Homo sapiens: one gene and its partners. The protein of the gene in region 1 interacts with the protein of each later gene in a pairwise test. Each region holds a gene or a part of one and is shown in the gene's direction. Other genes may lie near its edges.

Region 1 (4,662 bases):
AAGATCCACCAGAAGACATGTTGGTTGGTAACCCTGATGCATAGAGTGACAACTGCCTCTGCTAGGCTACATCTGAGAGACTGACATAAATCTTTTTGCTCCTTAGTGCATTAGACCATGGTTGATGCAACAGGGGACATGTCCAACGTGCAGACTCCACGTTTTGCTACCAGAAGAATTCCCTGGTCACCCCAGCCGGCAGTTGCCCAAGATCTGATACAAGGTCGGGGTGTCTATGCAAAGGAAGCTCAGTTTTCTTTTATTATGAGCTGCTTGTTTGAGTGGTGTAAAACTATGTGCTCTTCAATATAGTGCTAAAGAAGCCAGCTAATTTTATCAAAGCAGCAGCCAAAGAAGTCAGGACAAATCTTCAGGACTTGTGAAATGAACTGAAAGAGCTTGAAGCAGATGGAATTTTAATAGTTACACTATATATGCTCTTAGTAGGTTTTTTTCTTGTAGTGGAAACATAACTGTTAGCATATTTCTTAGGATGTTTTTTCTTGTCTTTTTAAATTCTTATTTCACTCATCCTTTACTCTCCCCTCAAGTATTCTACACTTTAATTTCCTGAAATAAATTTAAGGAAAAGGGAAATAGTAAAGAAGTAGGAATGGGTGCAGCACACCAGCATGGCACATGAATACACATGTAACTAACCTGCACATTGTGCACATGTACCCTAAAACTTAAAGTATAATAATAATAAAAGAAAAAAAAAAGAAAGTAAAAAAAAAAAAAGAAGTGGATATTCACGGAGAGCTATGAGGGGATAAAAGGGTATGATCTAATGGTAAGAAACTGGAAGAAACATAGCAAGTCATTTGTTCAGATTCTTCTCTGTGTCCCTGTGTCTCCAGAGATAAGGATGTCCTTTTCCTCCAGGTATACAGTGGGTACCTCTAGAATGAGGGTCTTATGACCTGCTTCCAGGGAAGGTCAGAGAATCCTTCCTAGGTTTTATGACTTGTTTCTGGGAAGAAGTGCAGGAGGAAAGTGAGTGAGACTTCCCTGCTTCTGCTGTTTTCTCAAACATCAAGATGCCATATTTTGGAGTAGCATGTCTTAAATCTCATCACCCGTCTCAGGTGCAGTTTCATGGCCATGAAGAAGACAGAAAGACCACTCATACCTGCATAAGTATTATCACAAACTTTCTTATCTTCTGTTTGTTCTCCTGAAAACCCATTTGTCTTTCCTAAACGAACCAATTTGTCCTTCCCATAGATGTCTTTCTCCCCCATTCCTTTCCCCTACTAAGTTAGGTATATAAGCCCCAAATTCTAACCACACTTTTCAGTTACTCTTCACGGAACACTCCCACATGTGCGAACATTGTCCGCATAAATAAGCTCTTTTCTCTTACTAATGTCTTTTTTTCAGTTTAATTTGCAGGCTCCTATTGAAATAACAAAAGTTGGTAGAGGAAAAAGTTTTTTCTCCCCTACAAAGGCCAAGAACATTTTGGCTTTATATTTATATTTATATTATAATGTGAATTGATTATAATTATAATGTGAATTGATAGAAATATATATATTTTTTTTCTGCCCCTGCTTGGCACATGACAGAACATGGGCATAGACAGACTGGCTATTGGTAATCCAGTCCTGGGAGATGATCAGGAGGCAGTACTCAATCCTACTTTCTTCTCTACAGCTTCCCATGGGCTAAAGAATTTACATGTCTGCCCACAGCAAATGTACTCAGGCTTCTACACTAACATAAGCCCACGGAAATGAAACAGAAAGGGACAGTTCATATGTTTCTGAATAGATCCAGTTGAATAGTCTCATTCAATTTGAGACTGTTGAACAACTGTTGTTGTTCTACATACATTTAAAGTCAGGGCACATGCGTCACTGCTTATTTTTCTTACTTGACATATTCCCTGCATTTCCATGTCTGCCTGTCCTTTAGATAAACAGTAAAAGTTTCCCATGTGCCAGTATTTCTCAAATGGTTTACATCAGAATCACCTGGAGGACTTTTAAGCTAGATTGTTTGGTCCCATCCCAGGGATTCTGAATCAACAGGTTTGCGATGGGTCCAGATAGTTTACTTTTCCAAGTTTACTAACAAGTTTGCCAAGTTCCCCCAGTTTATTACCATTAGACCATACCTTTTTGTCCAATCATTTAAAACAAATTTTTATATAATAAGTTTTATTTGTATGTAATAAATTTTATTATATAAAAATAAGTTTTAATATATATTATATAAAAAGTTTTAATAAATACCTAATATATTATTTAATATGATAAAACTTATATTAAATGAAATTTTATGCTGTTCTCTTGTCAATCTGTCTTTTGTTATCTTGCTGGTGTGCCTGTCATGTGAGGGACTGCAATCTGATATGCCTGTTTTCCACAGTCAAAGCAATTACAAGAGAATTGTTACAATTACCCAGTTATGTCAAGAGATTTTTTTTTAATTCACTAAGGTAGAGATAAGGAGAATGTATTAAAATAGGATATTTTAATTATAAATGCATGACTGGGGAGGGGGTATTGTTTTTGAATAAAATATGAGGTTATTTGCCATGACAAAAAAAAAAAGAAGTAGGAAAATCCCATGGAAATTTATGTTCCTTCTAACTTTTAAAACTACCTAAAAAATATAATTGATTTAAATTATATCTCAATATTCCCCATTCTTTTATATCCCCTTAAATAGGTACCCATGAAGAGATTATGAACTACTTGAAGGTGGAGACTGTACGGTGGTGTGTTGGAGCTGGCTTGTAATGTCTTATGAGTGACAATCGTTAGTTTGAGGAATTTTGTGAGACAGTTGTCAAATTGTTGCTAGCTTGAAATCTGCGGCAATTGGAGTATTTACACCATAGAAATGCTATAAGTGAAGACCTACCTTTCCCTTAAGAGCTAGTTGTTAAACCTTTACCAGCATACCACTGGACCTTGTCTAAAATTTCTTTGTGTTCCCAGTGTCTTGCCCAGTAGATACAAGATAAATATTGCCAGAATCAGATATCAGGAAGTAGTAAGAAAAGGAGTTAATATGCAAACTAAATCACTCGCTCAATTGAATAATTGAGATCTTCTGTTCATTTGTTCCTTGGACCTTAATCATTTGCATTTTGGAGAAAATTTTTTCTGCTTTAAAAGTCTGTAATTTCAGTTTTTGTGTCGGGGAGAGGGAAAAACTATTTGTCTGTAGTTGCTTTTTGTGACAAAGTGAATACCCACTGGGCTAAGTTTCATATCTAAAGCTTGTCACTAAGAATTTTCATTTTTAGGGGTCAAAAACCTATTTTGAAAATAGTGTTGTGTGAATGCTGTAAGTGTTGTACATGTCTCTGGTTTCAGAATTAAAAGAATTCAGAGTTACCTTGTGAGATAAATGTTCTTTGCTTCATATTCACAGTTTCACCTCCATTTAAATTTATGGGGAAGAATAAATGTTTCCTGACTCAGAAACAATTTTGCCTCCATATTTCAGTGCAAATATATTTTGAAGTTACTTTTAAATATTTATTTAAAACCTCTGTTTCTGTAACTGTATGTTAAACGTATTCTTCTGTAATGAGAATAGACTGGAACATGTGAGGGAAAAATATTTAAAAAAAGATGGCAGTCATCTAGACATGTAAAATGCCAAGAATGTCTTAGAATTGCACAATTTAGAATTTATAGAGCCTTTAATCACCTTGTCTAGCACCTTGTATTAGTCCATTTTCATGCTGCTGATAAAGACATACCTGAGATTGGGCAATTTACAAAAGAAAGAGGTTTAACGGACTTACAGTTCCACATGACTAAGGAGGCCTCACAATCATGGTGGAAGGCAAAGAGGAGCAAGTCACATCTTACATGGATGGCAGCAGACAAGGAGAGAGAGCTTGTGCAGGGAAACTCCCATTTTTAAAACCATCAGATCTCATGAGGCTTACTATCACGAGAACAGCATGGGAAAGACCTGCCCCCGTGATTAAATTATTTCCCACCAGGCCCCTCCCACAACATGGAATAATGGGAGATACAAGATATTTGGGTGGAGACACAGAGCCAAACCATATCACACCTTAAGGTCATGGTCATATAGCTAGTTATCTTGTAAAACCAATGTTTCTTAGTTCATACTTACAACTGCAATTTCACTTTCATTTAGAAAAGAATAAATGTTTCTTAATTGAACAACTATTTTATCTGTGTATTTCATTATAAGCATATTCTGAAACTACTTGAAATCTTTACTTCAAATGTATCTTTCTGTTTAATTGGGCTTAAACTTTTTCTACTGTTTTGAGAAACGTTAGGAAAATGGGAAGGAAAATATCCAAGAAGACAGTTATATAGACTTATAAAATGCCACGATTGTTTTAAAATAACAGAATGCCAAAGTTCATTGGGTCCTTAGTGACATATAATACATTTTCTTATTTTACAGGTATGTTGTACCCAATGTCACATGGCCAGATAGTGGCTAGGCCAGTCTCAGTACTTGAGGGTCTCTGATGCCTCATCACATGCTTTCTCCACAAACTCATGTTGTAATAGGGTATTGGTGTTGACTTGCCATGCTTAGCTCCAAGGATGGGGCCAGAGAACTTAATACAATAGTTGGTATATAGGGAGAATGTAATAGGACAGTGCTCCAGGAAGTTATATTTAATTCTTTAGGTGCTGAAGGTAATGG
Region 2 (7,043 bases), on another chromosome or scaffold:
TCGTTTATTATTGTTATCAAGTTTTATGTACCATACATAACTGTATGTGTTAAACTGGCAACACAGCAGGTTTGTTTACACCAGCATCACCACAAACATGTGAGTAATGTATTGACCTTACAACAGCTACAGTGTCACTAGGTGAATCTTGAATTTTTCAGCTCCATTATAATCTTATGGGAGCACTGTCATCTAGGTGGTCCTTCATTGACCCAAACATCATTTTGTAGTGCATGACTGTGTTGGGTTTTTTTTAGGCCATCTAGTCTGTTGAAACTACTCAACTCTGCTATTGTAGCGTGAAGTATGAGTAAGTACAATTATTTATGGACACAGTCATGTTAATTTCATATCATTTTCACGTGTCATGAGGTATTCATTTGATTTTGGGGAGCTCCATTCCCTAAATATCATTAGGTATTCATTTGATTTTAGGGATCTCCGCTCCGTAAGGCACTGTGATGAAGACCACAGCCATTTAAAAATGTGAAAATTATTGTTGGTGCAAGTGTTGTACAGAAATGGGTGGCAGGCTAGATTTGGCCGTGAAGCTGTAGTTTGCCAATTCCTGGTGTAGGTTATTGATTGGAATTTTTAACTCAAAGAACAAGTATCTTTTACTTTTACCAGTATAAGTTCAAATTCTTAGGATATTTTTGCTTATTTATATATCTTTTATTTCTTATGCCTCAGGAGTGCCTGTGAAGAAAACGGGGTATTGCCCTGAGGCTTATATTCTGCCTCAGTTGTCTTTTCTTGAAATATTATAAATCAGAATGTCTGCACAGTCAGTGGAAGAAGATTCAATACTTATCATCCCAACTCCAGATGAAGAGGAAAAAATTCTGAGAGTGAAGTTGGAGGAGGATCCTGATGGCGAAGAGGGATCAAGTATCCCCTGGAACCATCTCCCAGACCCAGAGATTTTCCGACAGCGATTCAGGCAGTTTGGATACCAGGATTCACCTGGGCCCCGTGAGGCTGTGAGCCAGCTCCGAGAACTTTGCCGTCTGTGGCTCAGGCCAGAGACGCACACAAAAGAACAAATCTTGGAGCTGGTAGTGCTGGAGCAGTTTGTTGCCATCCTACCCAAAGAGCTACAGACTTGGGTTCGAGATCATCATCCAGAGAATGGAGAGGAGGCAGTGACAGTGCTGGAGGATTTGGAGAGTGAACTTGATGACCCTGGACAACCGGTGAGCCTGCTTGTGTCATTTCCTGTGTCAGAAGCACTGGCATAGGTAGTAGGCAAAGCTGCTGAATTAATTCCACTCAACTAAGTTAGAATTATGTTTATGCCTTTTCCCCCATTCCCCTACCACTCCTTGTTATCTGTGCCGCTTTGCCATCTAGGCTTCTGCAGTATTTGTTTCATGGGGTTTCTCTTACGTGTTTTTAGTTCTGATTCTCATTACAGTTCCTTCTCTGAATCAAATCTTTCTGTTTCCAGGTTTCTCTCCGTCGACGAAAACGGGAAGTACTAGTAGAAGACATGGTATCTCAAGAAGAAGCTCAGGGATTACCAAGTTCTGAGCTTGATGCTGTGGAGAACCAGCTCAAGTGGGCATCCTGGGAGCTCCATTCCCTAAGGCACTGTGGTGAGGACCAGAACTCTGTGTGGGCTAGAGGGTGAAAGAGAGTATAGGCCTTTTGTTCAGAACTTTGCTTGTTCTCACTGGTGGGGGGATCATATCACTCTTAATCTAATATCTCAGTTTTTTTCTGATTAAGTTGATTTTGCTGGCCTCAGACCTTTTATTCCTAGACATTAACATCTTCAGCCTTTTCTTCCCTTTCAGTCTCCTTCCTAAAAAGAGTTGCCCATGTCAGGCTAGCATTTGCCTTACTTTGAGCCAGCACCCACCCATGGACCAAGTCCCTCTATTTTGCATTCAGTATTACTTGTCATCTGTTTTACATCCTTTTACTTTCAATCTCCTGCCTAATTCCATTGGTACAGTAAGCTTACCTGAAAACCTCTTCTAATCTCTTTGTTGTATATCACTGAAATCTTTCTAAATATTTATTTCTGATTTCCTTCAACGTCTACCTAGAGTCATTTTCTTCTAAGAAGCTTCTTTTGTAGAAATATTTGGAGTAATTTTTTTCCTTTTTCTAAGTATTTATGCAAAAAAAGCCTCCTTAGCTATAACATGCTTTAAATGCAGAAAAATCTTTTTTAAAAGCTCAAAGTTGTATTAATTCACGAGACCAGTCTTTCCCAATATATTAGCCATTAACACCATATACTTATGTGTATCCTTTGATATGGCCCAGTATATTCCTAAAACTGCTAGATTGCTTTCTCATGTTTATGTGAACTAAAATGAAATTTTGTTTGACTCTGCTTTAGTAATCATTCCTTGAAGTAGTTGGAGATGGTGCTGGTATGCCACTGAATGAGGTCTGAGCAGGTTTTCTTCACATCTGAGGGGACAGTGCCAGCCAGTCAACTTTTGGGGTGGGGCTGAAGTCTGCTGAAAATCTGCAGTTTTACATGTTTCATGGGACATTCTTCTGTGCAATAAAGTTTGAGAAGTATCATTCTTGATATATGGGGCTGATATTTTCAACTTCTCATCATCTGAATTTTAGAGTGACTTTTCACCTGCGTTCCTTATTTCAGCTGTCTAGTCTCTTCCACACTTGGGAATTTCTGTTTCCTGTGTGCCGTTTGTCTCCACTTAATCTTCACGCTCCTCTGTTTTTCAAGTCTCCAAGCCTCACTATCCTCCTCTAACCTTTCAGTCTCTCTCTCTTAGCCTTATCTCCTGACTTGATCTTTTTGTTAATTATTTACTGTTTTCCTCTTCGCTGAAGGCAGTTGCTAACCCTATATGAACTGGATCTTTACTCCTTAAGGCATGAAGTTTTAGAAAAGTCTTAAATGACACTTGCTGTTATCTCTGCCTGCGTGTGAGTGATGCTAACCCATGTTGGTAATTCAGGCTTTTCTTTCATTGGACACGTTTCACTGAGGCTTAGAAATAACGATTTTTCTAAGTACCATGACAAATACCACATGGGAGAAGCTGCTTTTATTGGAAAACTTTCATTTATTAGGGGCATACTGAATTTTTATGTCATGTCTTTGGTTAACACAGGAGGCCCCCAGCTTATCTTCAGCCCCTTCTTGTCAAGACTCCTGTGTTCTGCTTTTAGGCTAACATTGGCTGTGACCTGACTTGGCTTGTTCATTTCAGAAATAGCCACTTTCTGACATGTTTTTCTAATTTACATCTTTGTATTTTGATGTAATTTCTCCCTTTCTCAAAGTAAAAGAACATTATAATGATTTCCTAGTGGCCAATTTTATTTTATTTTTATTCTTACAAAGTTTCATCCATACCTAGCCACATCATTTTGACTATCTCCCTAACCATCTTAGAATCTACCATCTTTCTGACCTTTGTTTTCTGACTACCATTTGTAAACCACTTGCCTATGTTTTATTCAGATATCCCTTATATCATGATGTTATACTGTTATTCAGAGTAATTTCATTTTTTCTTTTTTGAGAATAGGCCTTAACACCAGTGTCAGAGTGGTTTATAGATGTGTGCTAGCTATTTTAGTTCATTAAAAAAAAAATTTTTTTTAGGTTTCTTTTCCCTTAATAGATAATGAATGATATTTACATTTTCTGTTTATTTCAGATGATGATGGTAGGACTGAAAATGGAGCACTAGCTCCAAAGCAGGAGCTTCCTTCAGCATTAGAATCCCATGAAGTTCCTGGCACTCTCAATATGGGTGTTCCTCAAATTTTTAAATATGGAGAAACCTGTTTCCCCAAGGGCAGGTTTGAAAGAAAGAGAAATCCCTCTCGAAAGAAACAACATATATGTGATGAATGTGGAAAACACTTCAGTCAGGGCTCAGCCCTTATTCTTCATCAAAGAATTCACAGTGGGGAGAAACCTTATGGATGTGTTGAGTGTGGGAAAGCATTCAGCCGAAGTTCCATTCTTGTGCAACACCAGAGAGTCCACACTGGAGAAAAACCTTACAAATGTCTTGAATGTGGGAAAGCCTTTAGCCAGAATTCGGGGCTTATTAATCATCAGAGAATCCATACTGGGGAGAAACCTTATGAATGCGTTCAGTGTGGGAAATCGTATAGTCAAAGCTCAAATCTTTTTAGACATCAGAGAAGACACAATGCAGAAAAACTTCTGAATGTTGTGAAAGTTTAAGAAATTGAAAAAAAAAAAAGAATCAGCACTCAGGTCTTTTTCTTCAGAAATGAAGACAAAATTTAAAATATGAAATGATGCAGAATAGTTTTTTCCCTATTGACTGTCAGAAAATCCACTGGGAAATGTAAAAATCTTCACTCACCATTATGATATTTATCTTGAAAGAAATGGTGTCATACCTGCCTAGAAACTGAAATTTTAAACTTAATTCAGGTCTTAATGCCTAAATTTTCCATGTGATGTTTATAGTCTGTATTACTTCTCCAAATAATGAACTACCTGATTCATTGTCCCTTTCTTGAAAGTTTCTTTTTTAAGACAAATACATTATTTCTGCATTGATCATTGAAATGTTCTTTATATGGATACATTCCCTTATATATTAAAAGGCAACAGGAATTACAAAGTCTGAAAACCATTTTAAACCATCTTTTAAAAATTTACCCTTATTTCCTTTTACCTAATTTGAATATGCATTTGAGAAAATAAGAGGATAAAGGATGGCTAAGAGCCTCAAAATGAACCATAAGATCTCAGATAAGAAGTGATGGTGATAAAACATCAAAAAGTGAATGGAACACCTTGATTGGGGAAGATATGCAAATACTTTGATCTAAGAATTGAAATGTATCAAGAATTTATATTTTGCCTGCAGGAAAATTCAAAAGCTACTCATCCTCTCTATAATTTGGAGTCATCTTACTAATGAAAATAATGTTTTCCCATATATTATTAAAAAGCATACAGTCTAAATAATAAACAGTTGTAAAATAATGAAGGTAGAAATTATAACACTAGGGAAAAATTTGTAGCGGATGGCAGTGTTGAAGGCAAATGTAAACATAAGGGTAATGGTCTGTCATGGCTTTTAGAAAAAGATGATAGAGTTCATCATTATTTTGCCTTCATCTTTGTTAAGGACAGAAAATTCCCTGACAGGTGGGCAAGTATCAGGTTACCTATTTTTTATTCCTTTGGTACAAAAGGGTTGAACGTCAGGCTAAAAAAGCAGCCATGCATTTATTATTAAACATTTTCTACCGACAAGGCACTGTGCTAGGTACTGTAATCCTACCATAAGTAGGTAGGTATTTCTTCCACTGTAAATCATAGGGGTTTGCTGTTTTATGTGAGTTAGCCTCTTCCCCTTGTCTGAGCATTCCTCAGGGGAGGTCACCTGTGAGGTTCCCAGAACTGTAGTTTTTTTTACCAGGGTGTTGTATTTGGAGGGGGAGGAGGACTCGGCTCAAAAGAGCTAGCTGGCTCTCCAGTGTTCAGAGGTGAGTCCACGATACTCTTACCACAATTTGGAAGTTTGTGAATCTTTTTAAAGAACTAATCAATCTCTAATAGCATTGAGGTTGTACCTACATATTAAGTTGAATGGACTGTTCTATTTAAAAAATAAACAACTAGACAATTAACTAGTTTATTAACCTATCACAATTGAATTTTTTTTTAATTTTCAGTCTTAACACATTTTTTAAAATGTATTAAAGTAATACATTGTAGTAGTAGGATTATATACTCCTTGGCTGAGAATTCCAAGTACTGTGGTTCTACTGTTTAGTGGAAAACTCTGGAAGTTAAAATATAGAATATGAGAGGAGGCTTTTTTATAATGGGCATCATTGTGTGGAAAATGACCCATGTGAATACAAATATTTCCTAGTTCAGAGATTTTGGTTATATCTGGTGCTTGGATCAAGTTTAAAAATGGAAGGTGAGATTTTGCATGAGCCTATTAAAAAGCATAGTAATAAATGCAAGGCCAGCTGGTGGAAAAGTGAGGCAGAATGGAGCTTGTTTATAGGTTTTCTGATAACAATTATAAAAAATGTGCTTTATAGATTAAGATTTATTGAAGTATAAATATGTAGTAATGATATAATGTATTTTAAGTTATACAAGAAAATGTAGGGACTTTTGTTTGGGTCTTTTTCTCTTTGTGGCTGAGGGGAAACAAGTCAGTGTCCAATAAAGCTGTAAACTCCTCTGCTCTAAGATAAATGATGTGATTTATTTATTTATAACTGGCTTCTTTCCAAGTAGGTTTTCAGGTGGCATATTTGGAAGACGGCTGGAATGACAGAATTCTTGTATCAGAGTAGGTAAGAAGGGAGCAACCTCTCAATGGCTATTATGTCATGCTTTTTAAGATCGTATGCGGTTCCTATATACAAGGAAGCTTCCCTGTGGTAGATTTGTCATAAATGCCAAAGATATTTGGTAATGTGAGTGTAGAAAAAGTAGTATGAGGGTTGGCAAATACTGTTTTTGTCTTGGCAGCTCTAATATCTGCATTGTTCAGAAAGGATTCTGAGGCTAAGGCAAAGCTCTGTGGGAAAAAGGGACTGGACCAAAAAAAACTGGATGGTGGCACACAAGAAGAGGAAATGATGAGATGTGTACTTTCTATCTCTGGTTAGGCTTAGTCCCCACTAGACAAATTGATTTTAAATACTATGTAGTGATTTTTAAATTCCATCCACACATTCATTACCCACACAGATAATCATAGAAATTTGGGGGAGTGCCTAGCTTCTGATGAAGTGGTGATATGGCAGTGCCAAGCAGTGGCATCGCCAGAGTATCTGTTTGGTTAGCAAATGAGCAGTCATTTTAGGTCATGCAGATTGCTGATATCTGCCCAGTAGCCACTGAGCATTTGCTGGTTTTTTCTTCTGGCTTTCTTGGAGGTTAAGCTCTCTGTAGTCATACCCAGTTGGTACTTGATCTTTAGCAATATGTCTCATATTCATGTAAATTGAAGGGAGGGTTACATGTACTGAAATAATCTGCATGCTAGGCATTGGCTTAGACACCGTACCTATCTCACTTAGAT
Region 3 (7,256 bases), on another chromosome or scaffold:
TAACATTCCAAGACTCTAGAGTCCAAGGTTTAAAGAGTCTAGATTCAAAGGTTCTAGGTTTCAAAGATGCTGTGAGTCTTTGGTTCTAAGGACCTGAAATTCCAAAGTCTCTAATTCTATTAAAGTGCTAAGGTTCTAAGGCCTACTTTTTTTTTTTTTTTTTTTTTTTTTTTTTTTGCGATAGAGTCTCACTGTGTCACCCAGGCTGGAGTGCAGTGGTGCAATCTCGCCTCACTGCAACCTTCACCTACCGAGTTCAAGTGATTTTCCTGCCTTGGCCTCCCAAGTAGCTGGGATTACAGGTGTGTGCCACCACACCCGGCTAATTTTTATATTTTTAGTAGAGACAGGGTTTCACCATGTTGGCCAGGCTGGTCTAAAACTCCTGACCTCAAGTGATCTGCCCACCTCAGCCTCCCAAAGTGCTGAGATTACAGGCATGAGCCACTGCACTCAACCTTAAGACCTACTGTTCTAAAGCTCTGACATTATGTGGTTTTAGATTTTCTGGTTCTAACATTTTTGATAAAGCCTCAAGGTTTTAGGTTCTAAAGTTCTAAGATTCTGATTTTAGGAGCTAAGGCTCTATGAGTCTAGATGTTTATTCTTCTAGAGTTCAGAGTCCTTAAAATGTAAGATTATAGATTCTAAAGATTCTATAGTTCTAGACATGGAGGTTCTAAGGCCTAGGATTCTAAAATGTGATGTTCTAAGGCTCTGAGAGTCTAGATTCTCTGGCTGTAAGGCTCTAGATCATAAGGCTTCAAAATGTTATCTTCTCAAGTTCTAAGATTCTAATGATGATCAATTATAGTTTCTGAGGCTTTATGATAATAGATTCTCTTGTATAAGATCCTAGATCCTAAGGGTCGAAAGCTCTAGAATCTGCAATTCAAAAGTTCCAAGAGTCTAAAGATGGAGTTTCTAAGGTCCGGTGTTCTAAGATGTGATATTCTAAGACTTACTCTAAGATCTTAGATTCTCTGTGTCTAAGATTCTAGATCAGATGCTCCAAGATTCTAGATGATTAAATAAGATTCTAACGGTCTGTTCTGTTTCAAGGCACTCTAGATTCCATTGGTCCAAGATTCCGGATCCTAAGCATCTAAGTTATAAGACTCTCACACTCAGTTGTGACTAACTAGACACCAAAGTTCTAATAATTTCTAATGTTGGACACCTTTAGGTTCTTTGCTGCATTCTGCCTCTCTAGGACCATGGTTAAGAGTCCAAGAATCCACATTTCTAAAATCTTATAGTTCTAGGCACTGTAGTTCTAAGACTCAAATGTTCTAAGTTTCTAAGATTCTAAAGGTCCACAGGTCTAGACTATTAGGTGCAATTTCAAGGTTCTAACCCTATACTGTAGTATTCTTTGGGGTGCCCCTCTCCTTCTTAGCTATCATTGCTTCCTCCTCCCCAACTGTGGGGGTGTGCCCCCTTCAAGCCTGTGCAATGCATTAGGGATGCCTCCTTTCCCGCAGGGGATGGACGATCTCCCACCTTTCGGGCCATGTTGCCCCCGTGAGCCAATCCCTCACCTTCTGAGTACAGAGTGTGGACTCTGGTGCCTCCAGAGGGGCTCAGGTCACATAAAACTTTGTATATCAACGAGCTTCTGTCTCCTCTTGTCTCCTTTTAGCTGTGATGTGGCCCCATTCCCTGGCAATTCAGTTCCCCCATCAGAAAAAAGAAGGGCTTGGTAGGGTCTTGGAATTCTGTCCTCACTAGAGAGGGTAGAAATGAACACACAGATAGACAAAAAGACATACAAGCAAAGAGATGCAGGTTCTCAGAAACCCCCAGTGAGGAACTGGCATACAGATCCAGGATCACAGACACACACACACACACACACACCTGTTCCGCCGCAAACTAACAGACACATGAATTAATGGACACACCCAGGAGGACCTGGTCACAAATACAGAGACTGAAACTCAGACGCATAGAGTAACACAGACACACAGAATTACACAGACACAAGCATATTTACAAACATGCTCAGGCAGATACCCGCCACGAATAGGAAGAGACACAGACCTAGAGTCAAGTGACACAAATACTCAAGAGACATGTAGAGTACAACAGGTACTCACAACCCCGAACGTTCAGACTGACATAGAAACACAGGCACAGAACACCTCCGATCATCACGGACCCACAAAGGGCCTCCAGCGAAGACCAGCCCACCGTGTCTGGCACGCACTCGCGAGCGGGCGTTCGCGGGTGTGGCCGGCAGCAAATGGAGAAACCCTTGGCAGCGCCCGGACGCCCTCCAGTGGCGGCTCCTGAGAACCGGGGACAGTTCAATCCGGGCCACAAACTTTTTTAGAACAAATCATTGTGGGAAGCTGGGAGGAGAGAGAGAGAGAGGAAGTCGGACGTGGGCGAGGGGCGGGGTGTCTGGACTGGAACCTCTGGGCCCACGTGAGTGTCTGTCCCGCTGCTGAGTGGGTGCTGTGTGTTTGGGTTGCTGTAGTGTTCGCTTGTAGTGCAACTATCCTGTGTTATCTTTATTATTCGATGCCGCCTGCCTCTGCGGACCGTAGTGGGCACATCTACACTGCAGCGGGGTGCCTTACCCAAAGCAGATCGGAATTGGGGCCGGGCGCGGTGGCTCACGCCTGTAATCCCAGCACTTTGGGAGGCCGAGGCGGGCGGATCACTTGAGGTCAGGAGTTCGAGACCAGCCTGGCCAACATGGTGAAACCCCGTCTCTACTAAAAATACAAAAATTAGTCGGGCATGGTGGCGGGGACCTGTAATCCCAGCTACTCGGAAGGCTGAGGCAGGAGAATCGCTTGAACACGGGAGGCGGAGGTTGCGGTGAGCTGAGATAGAGGCCCTGCACTCCAGCCAGGGTAACAAGAGCGAGACTCCGTCTCAAAAAAAAAAAAAAAAAAAAAAGAACAACAAAAAAAAGAACTGGATGCGTCTGATCTGACGCACGCCTGTTTGTTTACGACTGCGGGGTGTGCCTTTGTCTGAGTAGAGATAGTGTGTGGCTTTTGCGGGCTTAACGTGTGGCTCAGGAGGCAGTGGGAGTCTGCATCATGTATCCCGATTGCGTCTTACTCGAGTTTTGTTTTGAGTTAGAGGCGACAGGTGGTGCAGCGTTAGACACTGGGAAGCTCTGTGGCTTTTGTATTCCTGAGCGCGAAGGTTAATGACGGATCCGTGGGGTTGAGCTTGTCGGTACAGACGCCAGACAGCCCGATTTACGGGAACAGCCGATTAGAGGATTCGGGAGAGCGGTCGGTGAACTTCTGGATGTCTTTCGGGAGGGGAAGGCTCTATGGTCGCGTGCAGAGCGCCCGTTCCACGTCAGGTACCCGACCATAGAGCAAGGCGGCCGCGGACTACCCAAGGGAAGGGGAGGCCGTGTCCTTTACAACTTGCCTCCCGTTGTTAGTCTAGTTTCTATAGCCAAACCTTCGGGACTCTCTCAACTCAAAATTTTGCTTTTCCTAAAGGCAACTGGGTTCCTTCCAGATTACGAACTGTGTATCCACTTAATCTCTATTTCGTATACCTCCTCCTACAGCGAAATTTGTGAGGCAGTCCTCTGAAGCACGGCCAATCTGGTGAACTTTTCCTAAAATGAGCCATCGCTACCAGCTTTAGTGAGCTAAGACAATAACTGCGATTGGTGGGCAGATTGTTTTGAAACCGCCCTAACGGCAAGGGGCGGGCTCCTGGTGAATTCATCTCTTTCCGGTTTCTTAAAGGCAACAGGAAGGAGGGGTTTCTGCCGACCCTCCATTTGATTGGTTCTAGTGGTTTTACCCGCTCGGACTCCTCAAGGGGCGGGAGATGTACACCAATCGGAATGTGTGTTACAGAGACACTTAGTTTGATGAAAGGACTGCGCAGGAAAGGCCGTGGGACACTCATTCTGAGATCTTACCGTTGATTGGACCAAATTGTTACTCCCTTATTTTCATTGGACCTTACGGCAGCCGGCGCGCGAGAGTTACCCAATCAGCAAGCGCTCCGCCTCCTGCCTTTTCCCGCCCTCCGCTCCGGCCTCGGCTTCGACGTAGGCCAACGCTTCCTCCCCAGTAGCTCCTAGGCCTTCTCGTGGCCGTTGTTTTGAAAACGGCGCTCTGATTGGCTAGGTTTCCGGGCCCGCGCCCGTTGCCCCACGCACTGACCAATTGGCACTCATGTAACATCGGACGAGGCACGAGTGAGGGGGGAGGCGGTGGCGGCGGCCATTTTGAGCCGCTGCCGCCATTGGAGTGGGCCCCCCCCCTTTCCCCCTTCGCCTCCTGACAGGAAAGGTTTAAGGGGGACAGAGCCCTGGGAGGCCGGGCCGGGCTCGGGGGCCACCCCGGGGGCCCGGGCCATGGATGTGCGCCGTCTGAAGGTGAACGAACTTCGCGAGGAGCTGCAGCGCCGCGGCCTGGACACTCGAGGCCTCAAGGCCGAGCTTGCTGAGCGGCTGCAGGCGGCGTTGGAGGCCGAGGAGCCTGACGACGAGCGGGAGCTCGACGCCGACGACGAACCGGGGCGACCCGGGCACATCAACGAGGAGGTCGAGACCGAGGGGGGCTCCGAGCTGGAGGGGACCGCGCAGCCACCGCCGCCCGGGCTGCAGCCGCACGCGGAGCCCGGCGGCTACTCGGGGCCGGACGGACATTGTGAGAGTGCGCGGGGCGGGGGCCGGGGAGCCCGGAGCCTGGGCCGAGGAAAGGGCTGTGGGACGCGGGAGTCCAGCGCCTGAGGTCGGGGAGACGACCTGAGGATCGGGGGATCCCGCTACCCGCCGCCGAAAAGGATCTGGGGACCAGGGCCCCAGCACGACCGGAGGGTGGATCCTGACACTCAGTGCAGGGGGGACACTGGGGGAGGGGCCTCTGGGTTTCGGAGGTGAGGGACGGGGGTGGCGGGGAGGATTCCGTACCGTAGGGATCGGAGACCGGAAACTGCTTTCTGGAGCCGAAGAGAGTCGGAAGAACAAGAGGTTTTCCGTTTGGGTTGGGGAGGGTCTCGAAAATGGGGATCCTAGGGTACGGAGCTCCGTGGGCTTGGCGGTCGTGCTAGCCCAGCGTGTGGGCTGGGGGGTGGGGAGCCGTGTTTCCAGGGTGGGGAAGGAATGTCCAGGTGTGCGGGGCTGCGAGAGTTCTGAGGAAGGAGGATCCTGGAATATGCCGCTGGATGCGATCCTGGGCGTTCTCCTATTTGGGTACGGGGGTGGGTGGGAGAGGTGGAGGCGCTGGTGTCTGTGGCTGGGGAGGGTCCTAATGGACTCAGTGCTTTGGAGTTTGGCTAGTGAGCATTTAGGGGCTGCGGGAGATTGAACTAGGGGGCACCCCCATCTCTCTTCCGGGGCTGGAAGGCCACCCTTGAAGCAGGCACAGCCTGGACATTAGGTGCTGGGAGATCTGGGGACTTTCTGGTTGGCTTCTAGAAGAGGTATAGGGAGCCCTGGTGTCCAGAGGCTGGCGGGGGAGAGGATGCTTTCCTGGACAAAGGATCTGGGGGTCTAGAGCTAAGAAAACTGAGGGCAAATAACTCTTGAGGCTGCTGCTGACTGGTCTGGAGCTAACTGTGGGGTTTTTGGAGAACAGAGGGTAGCTGGGGGTGGGATGGGGGCAGATGAGTTGGTAACATTCCAAGTGGATGAAATATGTGGCGGGAGACAGAGGATCCTGTGTCCAGCACAGGAGTACGTATCTGGCTTAGCGAATATGGGGAGGGGGGAGGCCGTAGGGAGCAAAGAGAAAGAAACCTGTTGACTTCACTGGAGGCCTCAGAGTGGAGTGTGGGGAATGTTTCTGGACCTGAGCGTCTCCAGGAGAAATCTCGACGGTTCCCAGAAGCAGTTATTTGTGTACCCAGGGAGTGGGGGCCCTCGGGGAGCAGCACGGAACTCTTCATCAGCCAGGAGCTGTGACTCTGGGAATGGGTTCGGGTAGACCTGCGGTTGTCTGAGGAGAGGAAAACCTGATATGGGACGGCGTGAATCTTCAGTTAGAAAAAAAGCAGCTTTCGGGCCGAGTGCAGTGGCTCACGCCTGTTATTCCAGCACTTTGGGAGGCCGAGGCGGGCGGATCACGAGGTCAGGAGTTCAAGACCAGTCTGGCCAGCATAGTGAAACCCTGTCTCTACTAAAAATACAAATATTAACCGGATCTGGTGGTGTGCGCCTGTAGTCCCAGCTACTCGGGAGGCTGAGGCAGGAGAATCGCTTGAACTTGGGAGGGGGAGGTTGCAGTCAGCCGAGATTACGCCATTGCACTCCAGCCTGGGCAACAAAAGTGAAACTCCGTCTCAAAAAAGAAAAAAGCAGCTTTCTTTCTCTTTTTTTTAAATACAGATGGGGGGTCTCGCTATGTTGCCCAGGGTGGTCTTGAACTCCTGGGTTCAGGTGATCTCACCTCGGCCTCCTGAAGTGCTGGGATTACAGGCGTGAATCACTGCACCAGGCCTCAGGGCAGCTTTCTAGTAGGACTGGGAAATGGGGGGACTGGAAAGGTTAAGGAGTAAGTAGAAGGGATTCTGGCGTAAGAGTTTGTGGAGTTTTTCTGAAAAGAGGGCACCCTGGGACTTGGGGCTAAGGGGATAAGGAGAGAAATGAGGTAACAGAAGAGACAGGATTTGGGGTTGGAATTGGATACTTGTTCATAAGAGAATTTCCCGGAGGGAGGAGTGTGGATTTGGGGTAGGCAGTGGCCTAGAGATTATCGAGGACCCAGGTGCTGGAAAGAGGACTTCCCATTGCAGAGACTTGTGAAGAAAGGAGTGGGCCTGTGTGTGTGTCTAGAGCAGGAGGGATCGTGGCAGGAATGCCTAGCAAGAAAGGGTAGTGGGTTAGTAGTGACCTGGTGGTCTGGGCAGAGAGTCATCTCTGAGAGGAAAGCGAATTAGGTGCTTTGGAGCGTAGACTCTAGACTAAGACAGACTTCGTTTCAAATCTGGCTTAAAGATATTGGCAAGTCACTTCACCTCTGTGGGCCTGGTTTCCTTAATGTGTAAAATGGGGTTAATCAACAAATAGTGTGTTCACAGCCCCTCCAACCCCTGAGGGGTGTTATGAATGAGATCACATGTGAAGGGCTTATCACTGGGCCTGCCTTTTATGAGAAGAGGGATGTTTTAGAGAATGGAGAAGGACCCTAGAATTATAGCTTCTCCAGGAGGGGCTGCCTCTGTGAACACAGGAGAGAGATGCTGGGGAAAAGAGGCTTTGTGGGAAGAGGAGCATTGTGCTTGGAGCCTGGAAGCAGCAGAATAGTTTGAAAGGGCCC

Evidence for each region.
Region 2: the proteins of DZIP3 (region 1) and ZNF24 interact in binary tests that used the Homo sapiens proteins (3 or more experiments, as listed by UniProt).
Region 3: the proteins of DZIP3 (region 1) and HNRNPUL1 interact in binary tests that used the Homo sapiens proteins (3 or more experiments, as listed by UniProt).

Annotation. Positions count from the first base shown.
Region 1 is NC_000003.12:108,690,681-108,695,342, forward strand, and holds the end of DZIP3 (E3 ubiquitin-protein ligase DZIP3), read left to right. Parts: intron 1-106; coding exon 107-217; 3' UTR 218-223; intron 224-2,679; 3' UTR 2,680-4,160; downstream 4,161-4,662. UniProt on the Homo sapiens protein: E3 Ubiquitin ligase proteins mediate ubiquitination and subsequent proteasomal degradation of target proteins.
Region 2 is NC_000018.10:35,334,384-35,341,426, reverse strand, and holds part of ZNF24 (zinc finger protein 24), read left to right. Parts: intron 1-693; 5' UTR 694-776; coding exon 777-1,196; intron 1,197-1,450; coding exon 1,451-1,598; intron 1,599-2,353; coding exon of another isoform or gene 2,354-2,367; exon of another isoform or gene 2,368-3,656; coding exon 3,657-4,195; 3' UTR 4,196-7,043. UniProt on the Homo sapiens protein: Transcription factor required for myelination of differentiated oligodendrocytes. Required for the conversion of oligodendrocytes from the premyelinating to the myelinating state.
Region 3 is NC_000019.10:41,260,153-41,267,408, forward strand, and holds the start of HNRNPUL1 (heterogeneous nuclear ribonucleoprotein U-like protein 1), read left to right. Parts: upstream 1-4,219; 5' UTR 4,220-4,351; coding exon 4,352-4,646; intron 4,647-4,712; exon of another isoform or gene 4,713-4,730; intron 4,731-4,928; exon of another isoform or gene 4,929-5,163; coding exon of another isoform or gene 5,164-5,191; intron 5,192-7,256.